Linked DNA regions of Homo sapiens. The protein of the gene in region 1 purifies or fractionates together with the protein of each later gene. This does not show direct contact. Each region holds a gene or a part of one and is shown on either strand. Other genes may lie near its edges. The genes, in order: CAMKK2, OBSL1, FLNC, YTHDF3, PRKAG1, SMC1A and IQGAP2.

Region 1 (3,500 bases):
TGGCCTGAGAGGAAGGCCAGCAGAGATCAGCTCCTGAACCCTTCCATGTTCCAGACAAGGGAAGCGGAGTACAGAAAGGAAGGGAGGACGTGATCTTTGCGGAACAATTAGCTTGAGCCACGCTGTGTACTAGGGACTGCCATAGAGAAGATCAACTCTATAGCCACCCTCTTAGGTAGGTCTGGCACCATTTCACAGATGAGAAAATCAAGGCTCAAGGTCCTCTGGGATCTGTATCCTTTCCTGATGTACCTTCTCTTCCTGAGGTCTTAGGCCTCCCTTGGCTCCCCGCCCCGCCTTTTTTTTTTTTTTTTTTAAAGACAGGGTCTTGCTCTGTCTCTCAGGCTGGAGTGCAGTAGCATGATCTCAGCTCACCGCAACCTCTGCCTCCTGGGTTCAGGCGATTGTCGTGCCTCAACCTTCCAAGTAGCTGGAATTACAGGCACGTCCCATCACGCCTGGCTAATTTTTGTATTTTTAGTGGAGACGAGGTTTCACCATGTAGGCCAGGCTGGTCTCGAACTCCTGACCTCAGGTGATCCGCCCGCCTCAGTCTCCGAAAGTGCTGGGATTACAGGCATGAGCCATCGCTCCCAACTTTGGCTCCTTGTACTGGCAAATTATGCTCGTTTTCTGATGGAGTGGAGTCCACCTTCCCTGGCAGGTTATGGGATGGAAAGCATTTCCGAATAGTTTTGGGCTCTGAGAAATAAGATTTAGAATTATTATTTGTTTTCTTCCCTGATTGGACCCCTTTCTCAACAAAACCAAGATAATAATAATAAAAAAGACATCTTTAAAATGATGTGAGTTCTGTTAGATTTTGTAGGGAAGACCCCTGGCTGCTGCTTTCCCCGTTGGGGACGTTAGTGATCCAAATGGGAAAGGGATTATTTTAGCTGCCAGTGTTTCGGTTTCAGTCATGTTTGTAGTATTGCCACTGAAGTTTTTTTTTTTCAATTATGAAACATTTTAAGCATAGAGAAAAGCCAAAGTTTTGCTTTGTTTTTTTAAACTGGCTCGCTTTTTGGAAAGCTGGAAGGAGGCCCAGGAGGTGACGGAAACGGGGCAGAGTGGGGCGCCCTGGCTCTGCAGGCTCGACCCTTCACCCAGCCCGCTCTTTTGGTTGGGGTGGGGTGGGGGGATTGGTGCTGGTGACAGGCTATACCCTGGGGAACTGAGAAATACTGGGACTTGGTTCCTGTCCCAGGTGAGTGGTCTCAGAGCCTTTTGGAAAAGATGAACAATTCTGACATCCTTTCCCTTTTGAAAAGGAATGAAAGAAAATGAGAAGATTCTGTAGTGCCCCCACCCCCACCCCACCCCATCCTGAAAGCTGCTGAGCAACTATTTTTATGTTGCCTCTTTTTATCCTGGTGGCTTCTGTAAATAGTTGAGAGATGGCAGTTGCAGAGATAAAAATGCTAATCCCAACCTGGAAAAGAGAGGGATGGTGGTCCTCGGAGGAAAGGGGGGTGGGAGTCAGTGGGGAGGCCAAGGTGTTGCCCCTCTGCCCACGTGGCTTAGGCATGAGGCAGGAACCCAGCGGGTGGGGTAGGAGCATTGTGGGTGGTGCCTGAGAGAAGCTTCTGTTAGAGAAGTTTAAATGGGGAACCAGTGTTTTGCGGGGGCCAGGGTGCAGAAGGGAGAGCACACTCCCTTTTTCATTTTTGAAATGTGCTTTGGGGTATTGCCTTCAAGGCTTCTGGCAGAGAAATATTTTATTCGGTTCATCCTGGACAGTTCTGCCCTCTAGGTCCAGGTGTGGGGACGTTGGGCCCCGCAGAGCTGCAGAGCTGGCTCCCTGCACTCTTCTTGTCCCTCAGCTGAGGAGGCTTGCAGCTAGATTTAGCATGATGTCCAAAAGGTGGGGAGGAGGGAGGGAGAGGGGCCGTGGGTAGCCCAGGCACCGATGCCTGTGGGTTTCGAGCTGGCCCTCTCCATCTCTGATTTGCCAAGAGCATGCTGGGTAGAAGTCTTTTTCTTGTTCATTACAAACTGAAATTCCAGTTGTTTTCCAACCTCTTCCTTTGGTTCAGTGAAAGATTGAGAGGGATGCAGTGGGGGAAGAGGAAGGAAGGAAGATGGTTTCTACACTTTATTTCCAAATACCTCCCTCCTCTAAACACATACCCAAACTCACCCACACATTCGTAAGCTCCTCACACTTCAAGGCTGGGGCCACCCATGCACACCTGGTTTTATTTTTATTTATATTTTTTAAATTTAAAAATTTTCGAGACAGAGCCTTTCTCTGTTGCACAGGCTGGAATGCAATGGTGCAATCATAGCTCAGTACAGCCCCAACCTCCTGGCCTCAAGGGATCCTCTCACCTCAGCCTCTGACGGAGCTGGGACCACAGGTGTGCAGCACCACACTTGGCTAATGTAAACATTTTTTTGTGTGGTGATGGGGTCTTGCTGTGTTGCCCAAGCTGGTCTCGAATCCTGGCCTCAAGCGATCTTCCTGCTTCGGCCTCCCAAAGCACTAGCATTATAGGCGTGAGCCACCACTGTACCTGGCCCACAGCTGGCTTTAGATGTCTGACTGCGTGACTGGGGCCATTCTTTCAGTGATATTTCATTACTGACTAAGTAATAGCTGCCTAAGAATTCTTAAGACAGTTGGCCCTGGCAAGCAGCAAGACAGGGGAACTGCTTACTCTGTGAGTATCCAGGGCCTCAAGGGTCACTGGGCTGCAGGGCAGGCCACCTGGATCTCCTCCTGGCCCAACTGCGAGCCTGCTGGGCTGCCTGGATGAGGTCATCTCAACTTCTCTGAGTCTCGGTGACTCCATCTGCAGCCTCTGTTGCGCTGATTGCAAAAGCCATGTGAGAATGTGCTCTTATGACACATGGAAGCAAGGATGTGAAATGATATGCATACGCTATTTTTAATTTTGTAAAATGTGATGCATATGGACAAGGGCTAGAGGGGAAGATGAAGAGTTAGCACGGCAGGATTAGAGATTTAAGAGATTTCGTTTTAAAATAAATTGAAACCAGCTAGGCACAGTGGCTCATGCCTATAATCCCAGCACTTTGGGAGGCTGAGGCAGGTGGATCACTTGAGCCCAGGAGTTTGAGAACAGCCTGGGCAACATGGCAAAACCCCATCTCTACCAAAAATACAAAAAATTAGCCAAGTGTGGTGGTGTATGCCTGTAGTCCCAGATACTTGGGAGGTAAGGTGGGAGGATCACCTGAGCCCAGGAGTTCGAGGCTGCAGTGAACTATGATTGCACCACTGCATTCCAGCCTGGGCAATAGAGTGAGACCCTGTCCCCAACCGCCCCGCCCCCCAAAAAAAGGAAGCCAACTGAGGGTCGTGAATTCAGTAACTGCCAAAGTTCTTTCTTGGCAATAGCTTCTATATAGTGAGCATTCACACTTGTGCCCTCCTGAAGCACTCAGAAGCTGGATGATTGTGAGCAAGTCAGCCAGGCTCTCTGTGCCTCAGTTTCCCCACTGGTGGAACAGGGATAATAGCAGGACCTATT
Region 2 (3,500 bases), on another chromosome or scaffold:
GATCTTAGAGCATGGGTTGTTGAGGGCCAGTCTAGGGACCCTGGGGCTGGGAGCCACCACCCTGGCCAGGCAACAGGAAGTGCTTTCAAAGCTGATACTGGAGCTAAGTGGGGTGGGGTGTGGGGGAATATTCAAAGCGGGAGAAGCACAGGACAACTGTGGAAGTGACGGAGGTTCAGTGCCGGAGACCTCGGGGTGACGGCTCACAGCGCCCAGCCCAGTGTGTGTCTGGGGCTGGGGGTCCATAGGGCTAGGCAGCTCTGGGGGGCACAGAACCCCAGTGGCTGCACTGGAGCCCCCATCCTACTGCGGCCACAGTCCTGTCCTCTCCCAGCCCTGCCCTGAAAGTCACGCCCCATGCAGAGCTGTTTAGGGCCCCCCTGCTCCTTGCACCCCAGCTAATGCACTCTACACACACAAGCCCACAATGCCTAAGAGGCCTTCTGCACATATTCTGCCCTGTCGTAATCATCTTCACCCTCTCCCACCCAGCCATGGCCAGACAGAATGGCCACAGCCACACAAACTCCAGCCCATGCTCAGGCTCCCCACAAACACCAGTCTCTTCACAGGGAAGTTCACACAAACACCACCTCTGCTCTAGGCCAGAGCGAATCAAGTCTGACACCAAGCTGAGGTCCCGGGGCTGGGCAGCCACCCGGTCCCATCACTGCACCCTGTCCTCACCCCACTGCCCTCATCACCTTCCCCACTCCTCAGGCAGCTGCATTCTGGTCTCTCCTGGCCTTGCTCGGCCCCAGAGGACCAGCCTGCATCCCCCAGACCCTTAGAGCAAGCAAGCCCATGGGGGAGGTGGGTTGTGTGGCTCAAGGCAGGAGTCTCCGTGGAGGCTGGGGGGCTGAGTGGGAGCTTGTGGTTACCTCGGCCCATGCATGCCCCTATAAACCACCCCCAGCCCCCACCCCCCCAACCCTGGCCCCTGATTGGGAAGCTAGCAGTTCCTCAGCCCAGCCACCAGGGGGCCAGAGGCTAATGGAGCAGTAGTCGCCCCAAAACTTGAAGATTCTGGGGGGACCTGGGGGCAGCAGGGGTGTGGGCAGGCCTGGGCTCCATGCGCTGGTCACCTCTAATATTGACATGGTTCCCTTTCTGCAGAGGAGTGACCAGAACTTGGAGATGAGCTCCCAGAATCAGCATTTAGCACCCCTGGGGAACTCTCAGACAGACGTTGAATGCAAAAAGCATTACTGAGTTCCTGCAAGCCTTGGCTTGGAATTCCTGCCACTACCTGTGGGGTCTGAGCCTCCCTTTAACAGAGGGTATTTCCTCCTCCTGCCCCAGAGTGGGTGTAGCCAGCTGTGACCTTAAGGAAGTTGTATAATCACTCTGTGCCCAGTCCCTTATATGGAAAATGGGGACAAAACACTACCTTCCTCTTAGGATTGCCGTGAGAGTTAAATGTTTCAAGTGCTTGGGACTGTTCCTGGACCTTAGGAAGTGTCATATCAATGTTTGCTATTGTAGATCCACCATCCCTTATCCATGGTTCCAAAATTCCAAAACTCTCAAAATCAAAAGGCTTTTTGTAAGTTTTGTATTCCAAGTCATTTCAGGAAAACCTGAGCTTGATTGCTCTGAAGCTATTTCTATGCTTTAATTATCCTGCTGAGGGTGAATATAGCTATAGCTGTATATCTATAAGATATGAGTGTCTTATAGATATATGCTTGTATCTGTAAGATTCTGTATCTTTCAATCTATCCTGCTTAGGGTGAATGTAGTATGTGTTATACCACAGACATGTTAACGTGACCGATGAAGGGGGAGGCTCCCGTGGGGGCTGAGGAAGGTATGTGATAGATGAGAAACGCATCATTTCTGGAATCCAAAGCATTCTGGATTCTGTAACACCCTCTGGCCCCAGGGATTTCAGAGAACAAACTGTGGACCTATTATTGCTTATTATTATTTTACTTATTATTCTCATTATTATGTGGGTGATAGGGACTTCATGCTGCCGAATGGCTCCAGAGAGGCTGACGGTGAGCTTGTGACAGGCTGTGGTTGTCCCCACCCTGCAGAACCCCCAGTGCGGATCATATACCCTCGCGATGAGGTGACCTTGATCGCCGTGACCTTGGAGTGTGTGGTGCTGATGTGTGAACTGTCTCGGGAGGATGCCCCTGTGCGCTGGTACAAGGATGGGCTGGAAGTGGAGGAGAGCGAGGCCCTGGTGCTGGAGAGGGATGGGCCACGCTGCCGCCTGGTGCTACCTGCTGCTCAGCCCGAGGACGGGGGCGAGTTTGTATGTGATGCTGGAGATGACTCGGCCTTCTTCACTGTCACTGTCACAGGTGGGCAGTCTCTGCAGCACAGAGAGGAGGTAGAGAGGTAGGGGGCTAAGGGACAGACACCCACCTAGCCCCACCTCCCCCACCCCATCCCCAGCCTTCCCCTTATCCAGCTTCCTCATGTTTGGCCATCAGAATCCTGCTTAGCCACATCAGGTCAGGACCAGAGGCCTGGTGGGAGGGTGCCCAGCAATTAGAACCATTCGTTCATTCATCCATTCGTTCAATACTCATTGAGCAACTACTATGTGCTTGGCACTGTTTTAGATGCTGGGGATACAGCAGTGAACCAATAAGACTAAACCTCTTGTCTTCACAGAGTTTAAACTCTGGTGAGGGTGGACAGACAAAAAATAAAAGAGATGGTTTGTCAGGTGGTAACAAGTGCATCAGAGGCAAGGCAGGGAAAGGGGATAGGAAGTGGGGATGGGTGTGGAGTGGGGTGTGTAGATCTGGGTGTGAGTCTAGATCTGCCTCTTTCTGTCTGTGTGACCTTAGGCAAGTCAGTTTCTTCTAAAGAGGCCTCAGGTCCTCAGCCATGAAGTGCAGCCAGCAGCTGTGCACCTCTTGAGGGTGGTCAGAGTAACTGATTGAAAAAACACAGGGTTCTTAGGACAGTGCCTGGCACACAGCAGCTGCTCCATGGACTGCAGCTGGCACTGTTCTCAAGAGCTGTGCTGCCAGTGGGGAGGGCTGAGGATCTGGCGGGTGAGGCAGGAGAGGCCTGCTGGCCAAGCCTATGTGCCCCTCTCCATGCCCACCCACCAGCCCCACCAGAGAGGATTGTGCACCCGGCAGCCCGCTCCCTGGATCTGCATTTTGGGGCTCCAGGGCGCGTGGAGCTGCGCTGTGAGGTGGCCCCAGCTGGGTCTCAGGTGCGCTGGTACAAGGACGGGCTGGAAGTGGAGGCATCAGATGCCCTGCAGCTGGGTGCCGAGGGGCCCACCCGCACCCTGACCCTGCCCCACGCCCAGCCTGAGGACGCCGGGGAGTATGTGTGTGAGACCCGGCATGAGGCCATCACCTTCAATGTCATCCTGGCTGGTGGGTGCTCCTGGCCAACCCAGGGCAGGGAGGCAAGGGCAAGCATGGGATGACACCTTCCTCTCTTCTCCAGAGCCTCCAGTGCAGTTCCTTGCTCTAGAGACAACTCCAAGCCCGCTCTGTGTGGCCCCTGGGGAGCCAGTG
Region 3 (2,683 bases), on another chromosome or scaffold:
CAGGAAGGGCTTGTGGCCCAAGAGGGACTGGGCCCCAGCTCCCTGGACAGCCTCTGTGGGGACTCCTGGCTTAGGAAGCAGGGCCCCTACCTCTGGAGCAAAGCAGCACCAGACTAGTGGCCAAGCACCCCCAGAAGTCACCCTGTTCCCCAGCTCCAGGCACTCACCGGTAGTGCCTCCCTCGAGCCCAGGACCGTAGGCTGACACCAAGCCTGGGTCCCCAGCCTGGCTCTGCTCCCCAACGCGGATCTTGAAGGGACTTCCAGGGATGTGGGCACCGTTGAACTTGACATCGATGGAGTGGACGCCATTCTCGTGGGGGATGAAGCGGATGGTGTGCTTGTCTGTGGATAAAGGGTTGGTGGCTTAGCCTCCATCCTTCCCCTCCCCAGAAGGCCCCAGCCCGGAAGGGAGTTGGCAGGGGCAGGGCCAGCTCACCACTGTCCAGCTCAGAGACGTAGCACTCCTCCACAGCCCCCGAGGGTGTGTGCACCCGGGCATCAATCACGCCCCGGGCACCGTTCAGCTGCACGGCAAAGGACGCTGGCTGGTTCACCTTGAGCCCCGTCTCCTGCAAAGGCCACGGAGGATGCTCAGACTCCTGGGAGGCCGGGGCTGGAGCAGTCTTCTCTGAAGCCCCACACGGTGCTCACTGTAAGCCCAGCCCAAAGGCTGCTGCCACCCCATGCCCAGCCTGGCCCCTGCCTGCCAGCCCAGCCTGGGAGCAGGAGGAGCCAGGGTCCGGTATGCAACCCTATGTGTGCACCTGCTATCCTAGCTGTGCTTGGTGTGTGGGAGATGACAGACGATGTGCCCTGTCCTGGCTGAGGAAGGAAGGGCCCCACTCTGTGTGAAGCAGGCTGAGGGCGGAGGGCAAGTGCCTGATGGGCTGTGTGGGCTGGGGGTGCCAGAGAGCTCTGAGGTAGGAAGCTGAGTTTCACTGGCCTGGCCTGGGAGAGCTTCCTGGAGAAGGTGGACCAACAGGGAGGACCAGAAGAAGCACAGAAGGGCTCTGGGGGAGGGATTGGAGCCTGCATCGGGGAGCCCAGTTCAGGAGTGGGAGGAGGAGATGCACAAGGACTCTGGATGGGCCAATGTGACCACCCTGAGGGGCAGCCAGGAGGCGCGTGGGAGAAGGAGGTGGGGTGAAGCCCATTCTGTGCGCCTTATGCAGAAGCTCCTTTACAATGTGTCCCCTGGACACCTGGCCCCCTGGTTTGCATGTTTCAGTGTGACTTGCTGAAAGCCTTCCTTGCACATGTCCGCTGTGACAGAATGAAAGGAACACACCACATCTCTAGAAGTCAGCAGCAAGAGAAAGCAAGCCAGGCCCCCAGCGGCCTGAAGAGGATGCAGCCCAGGCTCTGCAGCCCATAGGCATTCCCTTTAGAGGAGCCTCTCACACCCTCTGTGCAAACTGGTTTACTCTTAGTTTGTATAGATTTTATGCTCTCATTCTTATAAATGTTGTCATCTAGCATTCTTACAACAGAAGGTGGAACAAACTGTAACAAGAAATGGCAGGTGGCAGTAGGACAGGCAGACACACCCTGAGAAAGGCAGAACGAGGCGTGGCATGCCTGAGTGCACGGGCAAGCCCCCAGGGTGGGAGCCCACCGTCCCCAAGGGCCCTGCCTCGTGCCTTATGAGAAGGGACTCCTAACTGGCCCTTCCAAGGTCACTGCTAAATCCCTGGCCCCATGGACCTGCTGTCCTCAACTCCTGCCCATCTCTCAGATAGCAGAAACCCTCCACCCCCACCCTGGGCACAAACCTGGAGGCTGGTGACAGTGAGACGGCGAGCGTCATCCGAGAGGGAGGCCACAGGCACCACAAAGGGGCTGTCTGGGATGTGCTCATCATTGAACTTGATGGAGACCTCATAGTCACCTGGGGAGAGAGACCAGTCAGCACAGGTTCCGGGATGGAGGTTGGCAGGGCGGGAGCCTCCCCACCCTGGCCTTATCCCAGGAAAGGCTCTGTGGTCAGCGCTCAGATCTGGAGGCAGACACATGTTTCTGAGGGTGTGGGGTAGAGGGAGACGGGGCAGAGGAAGAGCAGGGGGCTCCGGGGAGGGGAGTTCTGTGGCCCCAAGCATCTCCTGCCTGGCCAGTGGGCAGAAACCCAGTCTGGAAGGTCAGGCAGGCCCAGCCCCACTGCCAGTGTGGACGCCCACCTGGTTCCTGGACGACATAGGAGACGCCGCAGGAGCCATCTTTGCGATCCTCAAATGCAATCTCCGCTTTGCTAGGACCCTCCACAGCAATGGACAGGCCCCCAGCGCCAGCCTCCCGGGTCCAGATGCTGAACTCGGCTGGGGACAGGCAAGGTAGTGGACTTCAGCATCATCGCCCCTCACACTGGCTGCCCTGACTTCATCCCCACTCCTGGCCACCTGCCCCTTACCTGGCACGCCGGCCACACCTCGCTCCAGCCCTGTGCCTCCGGCCCGCACCTTGTGGGCACCACCTTCACCCAGCGGCCCCACAGTGAACTGAAAGGGGCTGCCGGGCACGTGCTGGCCACGGTACTTGACAGCGACCGTATGGGGCCCCATTTCCTGGGGCACAAAGCGCACGCTGTAGGCGCTGTCCTCGCCCTCGACGATCTCTGCGGCTTCCACCTTGCCCGATGGGCTGGTCACCTGTGCAGTCATGTCCTGAGAGCTGGCCTCACCTGCAGG
Region 4 (3,500 bases), on another chromosome or scaffold:
TATGTGTGTATTTGAGAAAAGCTTTTCTGCCTTAGCTTGTTCCCAGCTCGTAAAATTGTTTTACAATTCTGTTTACTTTCATGAAGTTATTTTTCTTGAACTGCAACCTCAGTATTCTAAATATGAGTAATCTTGAATTCTGAACTTAGCAAGCTTATGAAAAATAGTATGTCCTTGAGAAGTTGGTGTCAGTTAAAGTTTTGAACACGTAATCCTTTTCAGTCAACTTACTATAATTTCAGAGATCCTGTTTCTTTTCTGAATTGTCTTTAGTTGACAGCTTTAGCCTAACACCTAGTTTTAGTGTCTTTGATTTTCTATATATCCTTAATTACTTAATTCATTACAGAAGCCAAAAGGAATTCTAAATAATTGTCTTTGATATGGCAAAAATGTTTTTTGTAGAATAAGTAATAATTCAAGGTTTACTTGTTTTATAAGTTTGAATTCTTTTTTAATTAAGTCTGTCCCTGTGTTAAATATCAGAACTCTTTATTATCCTTGGCAAGAGTAGTACCAAAGGATAGTAGAAATTTAAGGATAATTATTTGCCTATTGGTTCATAATTTAACACTTCGTATTTTATTTTTTTATTAAGTAGAATTTTTGCTTATTGGAATAAAGGTGTGCAGTACTTTTATTTGGGAGTACTATGGTTGGAAGTGTCAGATGCCATACTTACAGTCTTAGGCCTTACTGCCTCCTTTCTCCTCTAAGTTTATAAATAGCAAATTCATGGAACAGGATTTATCTTTTTCCTCCTCTCCGCTCTCTTCCAACGGAGAGACGTATGCATTGTTTTATACAACTGTAATTTAAAATAATTAGGTTAAATTTGGCTAAGTTTTAATTTTCGAAAAGTAGTGGAAAATGCCTTATATTTTGGCAATATTCTGTTGTATTCTCTCCTCGTCCTCCCGAGAAATGATTTCAAAGCACTTTACTATCATTATTTTAGGCTTCATTTTATCAATCCTCACAACATCCTTGTAAGGAGATAGCGGGTATATGGTATTGTCGCTGTTTTTGTAGGTGGGGAAACATGATGCACAGATCTGTTGACTTTCCTAACTTGATGTAGTCAGGACCAGAGCAAAGAATCACCTGGCTCCTAAGGCCCATGTTCTATCTTGATTTGACTCTGTTTCATAGAGCAGAGGAAACAGGCGAAGAATCATGTAAGTCATCTGTTCTTTTTACCCCTGAAGAAATTTTACAGACTATGGAACTAGCTTGGATTTCATTTCTATTTAATGGTTTTCAGACTCCAAGACATTAGCTTGTCATTAAGTAAATATTCAAAAACGAAAGTCTTTAAGATAGTTTTCTTTAAGATACACTTCCAAAACTTAAGGGCTAGTTTAATGCAAATTGCTTCTCGGTATATGTGAAGTACTTTTAATTAAACATTTTTTAAAGTAGATTGACTTTTTGTACTATATTTTAAGACTTTATAGACATTTATGCATCATTTAAAAATGACCGTAGACTGTATTTATAATAGTATATGGGTTGTTCTCAGGCCTAGCCTCTTAGAAGAGAAATAATAGAACAAAAAAAATAAGAATAACAGGATTATATTTATATATATATACAGATAAATTTTAAGTAAGTACTTTTTCCTTTTTTTTTTTTTAAATAGAGGCAGAGTCTCACTCTGTACCCCAGGCTGGAGTGCAGTGGCATAATCATAGCTCAGTGTAACCTGGAATGCCTTGGCTCAAGTGATCCTCCTTAGACTCCTGAGTAACTAGGACTATAGGCACATGCCACCACTCCTGGCTAATTTCTAAACATTTTTCGTAAAGGTGGGATCTTGCTGTGTTGCCCAGGCTGGTCTTGAGCTCCTGGCCTGGCACTTTTTGTATTTGTATGAACTAGATTTTCGAGAACCTAGTGGATATGAGAGATAGTTAGTCATAATTTTTAAGTTGTTAGCTGTTTCAAATACTGACTAACATGTATGAGTGTAATAGTGAAGAATTTTTTTTCAAGAAGTAATAGACCATGCATACTTACCTTTGATTTAGGAGCAGTAAAGCCAGTGTCAGAGGAGAACAGGTATGTCAGAATCTCTTGGACTGAAATGAATAACCCAGCCTTATAATGGCACTAGAAGTAACCTAAGGCACCCTCTTTATTTTGGTTTCTAGTGGCTATTACATATTTAAATTCCATGGAGCATATTTAGCTCAATCCTAGTTCTGATGCAGTCCTTATCAGACATAGTTAAATTATGTTAGTGGAGCCAGGATCAAGTTGACCTTCAGGTTGCTTCTTGTGGCCTCTGAGGGGCAGTGTGGTGTAGTAAGAAGTCTACTTTGAATGCTTTACACAGTAACATCATATCTTTGATCTTTGCCACTCATTGGATGGCAAAGATTTAAGGGATTTTGTATATCTTTGCTCCCAAGCCACTGTTAACTCATAATATTACATTTTAGGTGCTCTACACTCATGGGAAAATTTAAGGATAATAAAAATGTTATATTACAGAGGAATACGCAATTTAAACCCGTCACCCTCCTAACTTCATAAAATTTGGTGATGTTGTACCTTTGAGCAGTAAATCTTTAGATACTGAGTTCTTTTTGTTTCTAATTTGTAGACATCCATCGGAAACTTTCAACTTTATCTTCACTAGTATAGAATAGTATATTTACATAGTGCCACCTCATCAAGTATTAGCTTAGTAACACTTCTGTTTAAATGGTTCTAAAGTCATATTAGTCCTATTTGGATCTTGTAATATTTAATGTGATTACATTTAAGATTATTGAACACTGTCATTTAATAATCAGATGAGATGAGGTAGGTACTATTCATACATAACCTTCTGAAACAGCGAACAGTCAAAGGTTAGAGAGTTTAAATCCCTAACTGGAGATCATCTCCTCAGTGCTGGACTTGAGATTCAAATTCGGGACCTTACTTCTGAGTCTGCTCAAAAGCACTCTGAAACAGCATCCAGAGAATAACAACTTTAGAGTGTTTATGGAGATGACCTTTGAACAAAATTATTCTCTGACTTGTTTCTCATGTATTGCAAGGATAATTATGGCTATCTTTTGTGTCTTAATTTTGTTTGTAGTTTCATGTGAAAGTCTTCATTCTGGGGGGCTTAGAATTAAAGCCCTCTTTATTTAGATATTTCATAATTATAAGTCTATTCATTGTGATATTGTTTCAAGTTAATTTTAGCCTAAACTTTACTGGAGACATTTAAGACATTTACTATAACAAATTAGATCGAAAATAGTTATTTCATTCTTTATTATACTAAATAATTTAGAGATTTAAACAAAGGTAGAGAACATTCAGAAATCTTTTTTATTGCCTACAACGCTACTTGAAATAGTTATTTTACATTCAAATATAGCATTAGGGAACTCTTTCCAACATTCTTATGTAACAATTTACTCACTACAGTGTTGAGATTGGGATATTTACTTAAAGTTTTTGGTAAGGGGAAGTGTATATATGGCTTGTGTTTATGTAAT
Region 5 (3,500 bases), about 72 Mb from region 1:
GTGAAACCCCGTCTCTACTAAAAATACAAAAAAAAACTTAGCTGGGCGTGGTGGCAGGCATCTGTAGTCCCAGCTACTTGGGAGGCTGAGGCAGGAGAATCGCTTGAACCCCGGAGGCGGAGATTACAGTGAGCCAAGATCGCATCACTGCACTCCAGCCTGGGAGACACAGCGAGACTCTGCCCACCCGCCCAAAAAAAAAGTCACATATGCAGTTGTGTTTGACTCTCTTATGTTGGTATCTGTATCTCTAGTTAGCTCTATGTTTCTTTCCTCCCTCTGTAACTTAGTCTTGGGCATATCTGTTCATATCAGTGTGCATCATTCTTTGAGAATTAAAAAACAAAACAACTGTGAATTATATGCAAAACCCTGTGCTTGGTGGTATGGGAGATACAAAGTATAAGATAGTTCTAGGTTTCCAGGAATTTATAATCTGTTTGGATAGATAATGAACAAAATAACTGTAGCACAGTACAGTATATATCATATGATGGGTAAATTCTACAGAAGTAGCTGTTTTTGTGCCTTTGTGTAGATCTTTGTGAGACTCTGATATATCATGTGTCTATCTTTATCACAGCCCTCTCTCCCACTTATAAGTGATGAGGCTGTTGTTCTGATAGTCTTGCCAAAATGGCAGGCCAAGCTGACAGTCTTATGCAGTCCAGTGGGAAGAGGGAGATTATCCCCCTTACTCCCTGCACTCTCCCCTAGCCCATTAAGGGAGAAAAGTTTAGGGCTGTCTTAAACTTCCCTGGTTTAGGAAGTTTGTCAGCCAACCTCCCAGGTTGAAGTTTTTAATGTCATGTTACTACAGAAGCTATGGGGATGAAGTATGGTTTTATTTTGGAGATATCACCCAGAGAAAATGGAGCCAAGACTGTTGATGCTAGCAGATGAAAATTGTTGTGATCCCTTCTGGGTTCCTAAATAACAATGGCATTTCCAAATGTTCCCACTTGAGGGAGCACAGAAATGGTTCTAAGTTTTGTCTAGTCAAAGCACTCTCTAATCTCAGACTATCTTGGGAAGGGAAACTTGGAAAACCAGCATCCCCTGGCTATAGCAGCCTTTGACTCACAAGGGTGCTGAGTGGACTCAAGTTCCCAGTTTCAGTACATTCGTGTTCCTTATCCACCTCTCAGTCATTCAGGTTTTGACTGGCTGACAGTCAGCTACTGGGATCCTCCCCAGTTGTGGCTCTCTCTCTGCCATGGAGCTAGACAATGGTGGAACCAGTGTCTGTGGTTCTAGTGCCTACAACTATGCCTAGTGAGTGTCTGTGTTTGGGGAAGACAATGCTGTCTCTCTGGCTTCCATGTTTTAATAAAGTAGATCTGTGAGAATCTTGTAGGGGTTAGCCCTAAGCTCAGATCTTTAGTCTTAGCTTTTAGGACCTAGTGTTTCATTAGGCAGTATAGTGTACAAGAACATGAGCTTTGCAGATAATGCTCGTTCAGCTCAGAAGTGGATAGAAGCATTTCTGGAAGGCACAATATTGTAGCAGTATTGGTTTCTTCTCTTCTGTGATTCCAGAGAGGTAGAATTTCATCAGAATGGAGTAAATACATTCAAAAATTTTATAAAAATGGCCGGGCGTGGTGGCTCATGCCTGTAATCCCAGCACTTTGTGAGGCTGAGGCGGGCAGATCAGTTGAGGTCAGGAGTTTGAGACCAGCCTGGCCAACATGGTAAAACCCCATCTCTGTTATAAATATGAAAATTAGGTGGGTGTGGTGGTGCACGCCTGTAATTCCAGCTCTCAGGAGGCTGAGGCACGGGAATTGCTTGAACCCAGGAGGAGGCAGTTGCAGTGAGCCAAGATCACGCCACTGCACTCCAGCCTGGGCAACAGAGCAAGACTCTGCCTCAAAACAAAACAAACAAAAAAATTTACAAAAATGAACACTGCCAAGATAAACCCAACCAAACTCTTCATCAGTTATAAGAAATTATTTTGTTAGGTATACGTAGTTTTTTAAAAATTTGTTTTTTCAAGTATGTTATTTATTAAAATTTTGATGTAAACAAAAGCAAACCACAAGCTCTGGAACCAGAAGATAGGTGTTTGAATGCCTACTCCACCCCTTATCAGCCATGTGACCTTGGGCAAGTTGCTTAATGTCTCTTGACCCTCAGAGACAATCTGTGAAAATAAGGCTAATAATAGTATTTACCTCAGGGTTGTTATGAAGATTAAATGAGATCATATTTCTGAAGAGCCTTATAAGGCTGGGTGCAGTAACTCGTGCCTGTAATCGTAGTGCTTTGAGAGGCCAAGGAGGGCAATCACTTGAGCCCAGGAGTTCAAGACCAGCCTGGGCAACATGGCAAAACTCCATCTCTACTAAAAATACAAAAATTAGCTGGGTATAGTGGCTTGCACCTGTAGTCCCAGCTACTCAGGAGGCTGAGGTGAGAGAGGATCACCTGACCCCGAGGAGGTCAAGGCTGAAGTGAGCTGTGATCACACCACTGCACTGCAGCCTGGGTGACAGAGCGAGACCTTGTCTCAAAAACAAAAAAAAAAGGGTTTGGCGGGGGCAGTGGCTTTATAGTGCTTTAAAGAAAGTCATTATTTGTTCACCAGCCCTTCCCCTAATGTTGCTAGGCTAAAATGGATGGAACCAGGTTAAGCTGAATCTGTTTTCTTATCTCTCCAGGTCATTTCTTCAGATAGCTCCCCAGCTGTGGAAAATGAGCATCCTCAAGGTAAGTTTACTGAAGAAAGGAAACTGGGCATGAAAACAATAGCCTGACCCTAACAATGTCTTCAACAATGCTTTTGAATCTCTCCCCTGGAAAAATCAAAGCAGGGCCAGATAATGTGCCAAACCACAAAAATCAGTGACAGTAGTTTGGCAAGATCACCCAGGAATAAATCTTGGGCAGAGTGGGGATGATTAATATCTTCAATTATCAAACCACTTGAGAGAAACATCTGAGGTACAGGCAAAACTTCCATAGGCAACTCTGGGCTGGCTACCATGTTTTAGAAGTCCTGGGTATTTTCTGCATAGTCCAGAAACAGTGCTACCAGGATTTTATCACCCAGCAAGCTCACTAAAGCCACTGAATGTACACCAAAAATTATGCAAAGGGCTTGGTGCAGTGGCTTACACCTGTAATCCCAGCACTTTGGGAGGCCGAGGCAGGTGGATCACTTGAGCTCAGGAGTTTGAGACCAGCCTGACCAACCTGGTGAAACCCTGTCTCTACTAAAAATACAAAATCAGCCAGGTGTGGTGGCGCATGCCTGTAATCCCAGCTACTTGGGAGGCTGAAGCACAATTGCCTGAACCAGGGAGGCAGAAATTGCAGTGAGCCAAGATCGTGCCATTGCACTCCAGCCTGGGCAACAAGAGTGAAACTTCGTCTCAGAAAAAAAAAAAAAAGAAAGAAAAAAATTAGGAAAAGGCTCTTAGAACTAATCTAGTAATAGAAGCACTAAACCTCTAAAATCCAGAGCACAGGGAAGACAGTTCCAATGCTGGCCA
Region 6 (3,500 bases), on another chromosome or scaffold:
AGTTTTGTATTTTTTAGTAGAGACAGGGTTTCACCATATTGGTCAGGCTGGTCTTGAACTCCTGACCTCAGGTGATCCACCTGCCTCAGCCTCCCAAAGTGCTGGGATTACAGGCGTGAGCCACCATGCCCGGCCCACTTTATATTATTTTAACATCGTTGAGTTTTGTGTCTTGTTTGTTTCACCTATTGTGGGCTTTTGTCCATGTCATTAAAGGTTGTAAAACTATCCATTCTGTGAATATACCATTTCTTTAGATTGGGTTCTAGCTTCTTTTTTTAAACTATTCTTTCCTCTTTTTTTTTTTTTTTCACTATTTTTTTAAAGAGAGTCTTGTTCTGTCACCCAGGCTGGAGTGCAGTGGTGTCATCATAGCTCATGCAGCTTTGAACTCTTGAGCTCAAGCGATCCTCCCTCCTCAGCCTTCTGAGTAGCTGAGACTACAGGCGCATGCCACTATGCCCAGCTAATTTTTTTTTTTTTTTTTTGAGATGGAGTCTCGCTCTGTCGCCCAGGCTAGAGTGCAGTGGCACGATCTCGGCTCACTGCAACCTCCGCCTCCCAGGTTCAAGGAATTCTCCTGCCTCAGCCTCCCGAGTAGCTCATGCCCAGCTAATTTTTAAAGTTTTTGTAGAGACTGGGTTTTGCCTTGTTGTCCAAGCTGGTTTCAAACTCCTGGCCTCAAGCGATCTTCCTGCCTCGGCATCCCAAAGTGCTGGGATTACAGGTGTGAGTCACTACGCTTATCCTGGGTTCTAGCTTCTGGCTGCTATATAGTAACTGCAAAAGGACTGTTTTTCCTAAGCCTTTGACCCAGAGGTTTGGTTGTGCTCAGTCTTTATGGGGACAGAGGAGTAGTCTCTCTTCCCATTAGTCTGAGTACTGAGTGATTAGGGGACATTTTTGTTCATCTCAATATCTTTATTCCTTTTCCTCTCCTCTTCATCCTGACTTTCCCTCTACTGCCTCGTCCCTCTTCCCTTAGGTAAGTCAAATCTCATGGATGCCATCAGCTTTGTGCTAGGTGAAAAAACCAGCAACCTGCGGGTAAAGACCCTGCGGGACCTGATCCATGGAGCTCCTGTGGGCAAGCCAGCTGCCAACCGGGCCTTTGTCAGCATGGTCTACTCTGAGGAGGGTGCTGAGGACCGTACCTTTGCCCGTGTCATTGTAGGTGGGTGAGGCTGGCCAGAAAGCTCTCCTTGGGTCCTGGGAGGTGGCTAGACTAGTTGATTGGGACAGGAAGGAGGCCTGACCCTTGCCAACTCATGCATTGTCTTGTAGGAGGTTCTTCTGAGTACAAGATCAACAACAAAGTGGTCCAACTACATGAGTACAGTGAGGAATTAGAGAAGTTGGGCATTCTCATCAAAGCTCGTAACTTCCTCGTTTTCCAGGTGGGCGTTTTTAACAGTTATTGGCTATCTGGTTTTTGCCAGACCATGTCCCATCCCCACTCTGTCTGCTCCATCTCAGGCTTTATCATCTCTCCCTTGAACTAATGTAGCACCTTGTTCACTGAGCTTCCCAACTTCAGTCTGGCCCCTGAGCCAGGTTCATCTTATGAGGACACACATTTGTTTTGTTTCCCCTCCCTTTTTTCCTTAAAACATTTCAGTGATTCCGTATTGCCTTACAATGGTGGTTCTTAAACTGTAGTCTCCAGACCAGCAGTATCAGCATTACCTGGTAACATGTTAGAAAATGCACATTCTCAGGCCCTATCCTAGACTTCCTGACTTGGAAGAAACTGTGGAGTGGGGCACAGCAGTTTGTGTTTTACCAAGCTCTCCAGTTTATTATGATGTCGGCCGAAATTTGAGAACTATTGCCTTAGGATGAGATCCAAACTCCTAAGCCTATCATTTAGGAAACACCATCATCAAAATCCAAATACCATCTGCATGTTCTTCTCCAGCCTTGCACTCCAGCCTACTTAAACCATTTATGGTTCTGCAAATTCACCTGCTTTCTTTGGCCTACAGGTCTTTGCATATTACTTTTCCTCTTCATAGAATAACTTTTTCTCTGTTTTTTTTGTTTGTTTGTTTTTTGTTCTTGTTTTTTTTTTTTTTTTTTGAGACGGAGTTTCGCTTGTCACCTAGGCTGGAGTGCAGTGGCACGACCTTGGCTCACTGCAACCTCCGTCTCCAGGGTTCAAGTGATTCTCCTGCCTCAGCCTCCCAAGTAGCTGGGACTACAGGCGCCCGCCGCCATGCCTGGCTAATTTTTGTATTTTGGGTAGAGATGGAGTTTTACCATTTTGGCTAGGCTGGTCTTGAACTCCTGATCTCAGGTGATCTGCCTGCCTCAGCCTCCCAAAGTGCTGGGATTACAGGTGTGAGCCACCGCGCCCGGCCACCTTTTTTCTTTTATTTTCTTGGTTAGTTTCCCTCCAGCTTCCAAACTCAGCACAGATGTCACCTTTGGGAAGCCTTCTGAGATAGATATCCCTATCAGTCTCCTACCCCCAAGCTTCATTTTGTCCTTTTCCTATGCTGCTTCTGTTACTGCACATAACACTTTGTTGTCTTTGTCCCTTTGGCTCCCTGTGCTCCTCAGAGGGCAAGGAATTTGTCCTCAAAGCCCAGTGTGAAATGTGGCAGCAGGGGCATGGGAGAGAAAGTTGGTAACTTTTTCTGGGTGAAGGAGTGGAAATGGGTAAGGTGAACTGGGTTGGCTGGGGTCTGAAGTGGAAGAGTGTTTCGACCTTTACTAGGGTGCTGTGGAATCTATTGCCATGAAGAACCCCAAAGAGAGGACAGCTCTATTTGAAGAGATTAGTCGTTCTGGGGAGCTGGCGCAGGAGTATGACAAGCGAAAGAAGGAAATGGTGAAGGCTGAAGAGGACACACAGTTTAATTACCATCGCAAGAAAAATATTGCGGCTGAACGCAAGGAAGCAAAGCAGGAGAAAGAAGAGGTAGGTGGCCAAGCTACCTCTTGGCTCTGAGGGACCAGGATGGAGCCAGTGCCTTATCGATGCACCCCTGCCACCATTCCCCTGTTTGCACAGGCTGACCGGTACCAGCGCCTGAAGGATGAGGTAGTACGGGCTCAGGTACAGCTGCAGCTCTTTAAGCTTTACCATAATGAAGTGGAAATTGAGAAGCTCAACAAGGAACTGGCCTCAAAGAACAAGGAGATCGAGAAGGACAAGAAGCGTATGGACAAGGTGGAGGATGAACTGAAGGAGAAGAAGAAGGAGCTGGGCAAAATGATGCGGGAGCAGCAGCAGATTGAGAAGGAGATCAAGTAAGAGGCAGACCTGGGCCTGCAACTTGTGGGAAACCAAGAGGCCGTGCTGTTTATTAGGGTTCCTCTGAGCCCGGAGTTCAGTACCTATACTCATTTCTCTGTTATTCTCCTAACTTGCTTTTGTAAGAACCAGGCACATTTCTTGACTTGCAGTTTAGACAAATAGAATATTTAAGCACTCAGGCCCTGGGTAGACAGGTGCTCAGATGAGGGAGAACTCAAAAGGGGTGGTGGCCTTGCCA
Region 7 (3,500 bases), on another chromosome or scaffold:
ACGTACTTTTCTTTACAGTTACCAGGCAAGTAACTTTAAGGTGTAAGGTTTAACAATCCAGGTTGGATTGGCTTATTCTGGGTGGGTGGTTGTAGATTTAAGCAACCCTAGCTTCTTGTTTCCTGTAAAAGGATGTCTGTGAAATAAAGTGTACACAGAGAATTATGTAATTATGTGGGTGGTTGTTACAGTACTGTTTGTAATAATAAAAAGTCAGGAAAAGTCAAAATATTTAGCTTTGAGGGATTTGTTAAATAAATGTTTGTATAGCACATAATGGAATAAGTATTTGGAATCGTGGTATAGATATACATTTGTTGGCACAGAAAAAAATGTTCAGGGTATATATTCCAGTTGGAGTTAGGTGCAATAACCCATTTTTCTGGGAAAAGAATGCTCATTACATACGCCACACAGGATCTGTATAGAATGTCGATTACACAAATTGCATTACACCCATCAATATGCGAGGCCCACAGACATACATGCACAGAGGAGATTGGACAGTTATGCACTAAGGTATGAAAATTGGTTGTCCCAAACACCGCATATTCTCACTCATAGGTGGGAATTGAACACATGGACACAGGAAGGGGAACATCACACTCTGGGGACTGTTGTGGGATTGGGGGAGGGGGGAGGGATAGCTTTAGGAGATATACCTAATGCTAAATGACGAGTTAATGGGTGCAGTACACCAGCATGGCACATGTATACATATGTAACTAACCTGCACATTGTGCACATGTACCCTAAAACTTAAAGTATAATAATAATAAAATAAAAAATAATTAATTTAAAAAAAAGAAAAGAAAATTGGTTGTCCTCTCTGGTATTGTTTTAGATTATATGTGATTTTATTTTTCTGTAATGAACATTTGCTTTTTATAATTAAAAGAAATTTAGCTGAGTCTAAATTACCTGGGTCTGCCTCTTATCTTGCCAGAAGAGACCAGAGGGAAGGCCTCAAGTCCTTCCTGTTCCAAGTTGCAGAAGGTACCCTCTGTGAAGGTGGAGCCTCCCCTCATTTAGTAAACATTTTGTTACTGGAGTCAGTGGCAAAGTCCAATTCACTATACAAAGCTTGACTATAGAACCAACTTGGCAGCAAAATTAATGCTTGTACCTAAGCCTCCAGTTAATTTAAAGCCTTTGTGTTTTCAGCAAGTTGCCTTATGATGTGACCACAGAACAAGCTCTAACATACCCAGAAGTGAAAAATAAACTGGAGGCTTCCATTGAGAACCTGAGAAGGGTCACCGACAAAGTCCTGAATTCTATCATTTCTTCCCTTGATCTACTGCCGTAAGTTGTACTTGCAGCAAGTTTAACATTCTTTCCTGGAACGTTCTTGGAATACGATGTAAAATAAGCCCCTGTAGTGAAGACAGCAGTTTTCCCTTATATTGTGTTTACTATTTTAAAAGATTGCCTACATTTACCTTTTAAATTCCTGACTGTTCTCTAAAGAAGGGGCAATACTTCAGTAGCAAACACAGCTCAGTTATTATCATCAGTGGAAGTCCTGTGATTCCATTACCATCTCATCTTATGTTTAATTTTTAGAAAAACTACTCAGCTGAAGTTGACTGGAACAATTGCTGTGTGTTTTTTCCTCACTCCGCCTTTTTTCCATTATTTTCTTTTGTCATCTGTTTTATATGTAGTTATGGATTGAGGTATATAGCCAAAGTACTGAAGAATTCGATCCATGAGAAATTCCCCGATGCAACAGAAGATGAGCTATTAAAGGTAGATTTTCAAGGGTAATCTCACCATAGCTTCTCCTGGGGGTATGAATCAAAATTACCAACATATAACTTTGTAAGATTATTCCCCATGTATGATTATTTATAATAAGCTGCAGGTCTTCTGTTTCTAATGACTCTCAAGATAATTGATTAAGCTGAGGTTAATTTGGAGATCCTAGACATTATTGAAATTCTTTGCATTAGAGCATTTTGGGGGCAATGAGCATTTTTTCATCAAAAATAACTTTGCAAATTATGCTATTAATAATGTGTGATTATATTCATTGCCTTTATTAAACTCCTTGTTAGGATTTACATCAGAAAATGATCTGCTTTCTCTTGGGAAATGTAGGAGAATATATATCTTTAAAAAAAAAAAGAAAACTAAAACTCTTGAGTTTTCTCTCTTAAAAATGGTCATGCACTTCTGCGTCACTCCAGATTGTTGGAAACCTCCTGTACTATCGGTACATGAATCCAGCCATTGTAGCTCCAGATGGCTTTGATATCATCGACATGACAGCTGGAGGTCAGATAAATTCTGACCAAAGGAGAAACTTAGGATCAGTGGCCAAGGTTCTTCAGCACGCAGCCTCCAACAAGCTGTTTGAAGGAGAAAATGAGCATCTCTCATCTATGAACAATTATTTATCAGAGACGTATCAGGAATTCAGGTGAGAGGGGCCCTTAGTTTTGGAGAAACGTGCAAGAATGGTAGGCAAGAATAATATGTGCTCTGTGCCCAGAGCTAGAGTGGGCATGGAGGACAGGAACCCCAGGTGGTTACAAGCATTTCTTCTACCAGCCACTGGGGAAAGAGGAGAGAGGGAAGTGCAGGCAAGATTGCCTCTGTCTGGCGATCCTATCGCACCCCCACCACAGCACTCCTATTACACTGAGTCTTTTCTGTGTGTATTATTTCTGCTGCTGACAAAATGGCATACTTGTTCTTCCTTGTATGCTACAGGCTTCCAGTACCTAGAATTTAAAAATCAAAATAGCAGATTTCTGCTTCTTTCAACTTAAGAAGAGAGGAATCATTTTTAAAAAGTTTTCCGGTGAGGAAGAACTTGCTTATCTACGTCAGATACATTTGACCCTTGATTAACACAGGTTTGAACTGCTCGGGTCTATTTATATATGGATTTTTTCAACCAAAGACAGAGAGAAAATACAGTATTCATGGGATGCAGAACCCACATATACAAACAGATGACTTTTCACATACATGGGTTCCACAAGGCCAATTTCAAACTTGAGTATGCACAAATTTTGGTGTGTATGGGGGTCCTGGAACCAATCCCCCAAACATACCAAGGAACGACTGTAGTAGGAAATGGAATACTTGATTTTGAAAGGTTAGGAAAACCCAGATTTTATATTTGTTGATGATTGTGTATGTGAATATGTTCTGTTCTATTCTCAAGCCTTTCTTAATGACACATGTAAGAAGATTTAATTCTATTGATTTTGTGTTTCCAAATTATATCACTAATCATTAACAAGAAAGGCATGAGTCTGGTAGTCAGATTCACTCCTCCTGGAGCTCTGAGGAAACACTTTCCTCTTGTCATGTTTGTTCTCATGTCTGCCATTTAATCAACAGGCCATAGAAGTGTAACATCAGTTTGGCCTCTTTTAATCCTCACTTGGAAACTCATTTCTCATTCCTCGGTCTCCCTTGGAGTGAGTGACTTACTAGAAAACAAAGGTAGTTCATGATTATTCATTTCTATTTAGAATTTGTGG

The links.
Region 2: the proteins of CAMKK2 (region 1) and OBSL1 purify together in Homo sapiens (affinity purification with mass spectrometry; 4 studies listed by BioGRID and IntAct, with this or other methods). This does not show direct contact.
Region 3: the proteins of CAMKK2 (region 1) and FLNC purify together in Homo sapiens (affinity purification with mass spectrometry; one large-scale study listed by BioGRID and IntAct). This does not show direct contact.
Region 4: the proteins of CAMKK2 (region 1) and YTHDF3 purify together in Homo sapiens (affinity purification with mass spectrometry; one large-scale study listed by BioGRID and IntAct). This does not show direct contact.
Region 5: the proteins of CAMKK2 (region 1) and PRKAG1 purify together in Homo sapiens (affinity purification with mass spectrometry; 2 studies listed by BioGRID and IntAct, with this or other methods). This does not show direct contact.
Region 6: the proteins of CAMKK2 (region 1) and SMC1A purify together in Homo sapiens (affinity purification with mass spectrometry; one large-scale study listed by BioGRID and IntAct). This does not show direct contact.
Region 7: the proteins of CAMKK2 (region 1) and IQGAP2 purify together in Homo sapiens (affinity purification with mass spectrometry; one large-scale study listed by BioGRID and IntAct). This does not show direct contact.

What each region holds. Positions count from the first base shown.
Region 1 is NC_000012.12:121,286,710-121,290,209, reverse strand, and holds part of CAMKK2 (calcium/calmodulin-dependent protein kinase kinase 2), read left to right. Parts: intron 1-3,500. UniProt on the Homo sapiens protein: Calcium/calmodulin-dependent protein kinase belonging to a proposed calcium-triggered signaling cascade involved in a number of cellular processes. Isoform 1, isoform 2 and isoform 3 phosphorylate CAMK1 and CAMK4. Isoform 3 phosphorylates CAMK1D.
Region 2 is NC_000002.12:219,558,040-219,561,539, reverse strand, and holds part of OBSL1 (obscurin-like protein 1 isoform 1 precursor), read left to right. Parts: intron 1-2,042; coding exon 2,043-2,315; intron 2,316-3,080; coding exon 3,081-3,356; intron 3,357-3,429; coding exon 3,430-3,500. UniProt on the Homo sapiens protein: Core component of the 3M complex, a complex required to regulate microtubule dynamics and genome integrity. It is unclear how the 3M complex regulates microtubules, it could act by controlling the level of a microtubule stabilizer.
Region 3 is NC_000007.14:128,854,406-128,857,088, reverse strand, and holds part of FLNC (filamin-C), read right to left. Parts: intron 2,677-2,683; coding exon 2,407-2,676; intron 2,315-2,406; coding exon 2,177-2,314; intron 1,891-2,176; coding exon 1,775-1,890; intron 572-1,774; coding exon 439-571; intron 345-438; coding exon 168-344; intron 1-167.
Region 4 is NC_000008.11:63,171,621-63,175,120, forward strand, and holds part of YTHDF3 (YTH domain-containing family protein 3), read left to right. Parts: intron 1-1,032; exon of another isoform or gene 1,033-1,120; coding exon of another isoform or gene 1,121-1,178; intron 1,179-2,030; exon of another isoform or gene 2,031-2,061; intron 2,062-3,500. UniProt on the Homo sapiens protein: Specifically recognizes and binds N6-methyladenosine (m6A)-containing RNAs, and regulates their stability. M6A is a modification present at internal sites of mRNAs and some non-coding RNAs and plays a role in mRNA stability and processing.
Region 5 is NC_000012.12:49,012,277-49,015,776, reverse strand, and holds part of PRKAG1 (5'-AMP-activated protein kinase subunit gamma-1), read left to right. Parts: intron 1-2,666; coding exon 2,667-2,715; intron 2,716-3,500. UniProt on the Homo sapiens protein: AMP/ATP-binding subunit of AMP-activated protein kinase (AMPK), an energy sensor protein kinase that plays a key role in regulating cellular energy metabolism.
Region 6 is NC_000023.11:53,412,655-53,416,154, reverse strand, and holds part of SMC1A (structural maintenance of chromosomes protein 1A), read left to right. Parts: intron 1-985; coding exon 986-1,174; intron 1,175-1,284; coding exon 1,285-1,397; intron 1,398-2,719; coding exon 2,720-2,923; intron 2,924-3,016; coding exon 3,017-3,255; intron 3,256-3,500. UniProt on the Homo sapiens protein: Involved in chromosome cohesion during cell cycle and in DNA repair. Central component of cohesin complex. The cohesin complex is required for the cohesion of sister chromatids after DNA replication.
Region 7 is NC_000005.10:76,672,285-76,675,784, forward strand, and holds part of IQGAP2 (ras GTPase-activating-like protein IQGAP2), read left to right. Parts: intron 1-1,164; coding exon 1,165-1,305; intron 1,306-1,667; coding exon 1,668-1,752; intron 1,753-2,192; coding exon 2,193-2,425; intron 2,426-3,500. UniProt on the Homo sapiens protein: Binds to activated CDC42 and RAC1 but does not seem to stimulate their GTPase activity. Associates with calmodulin.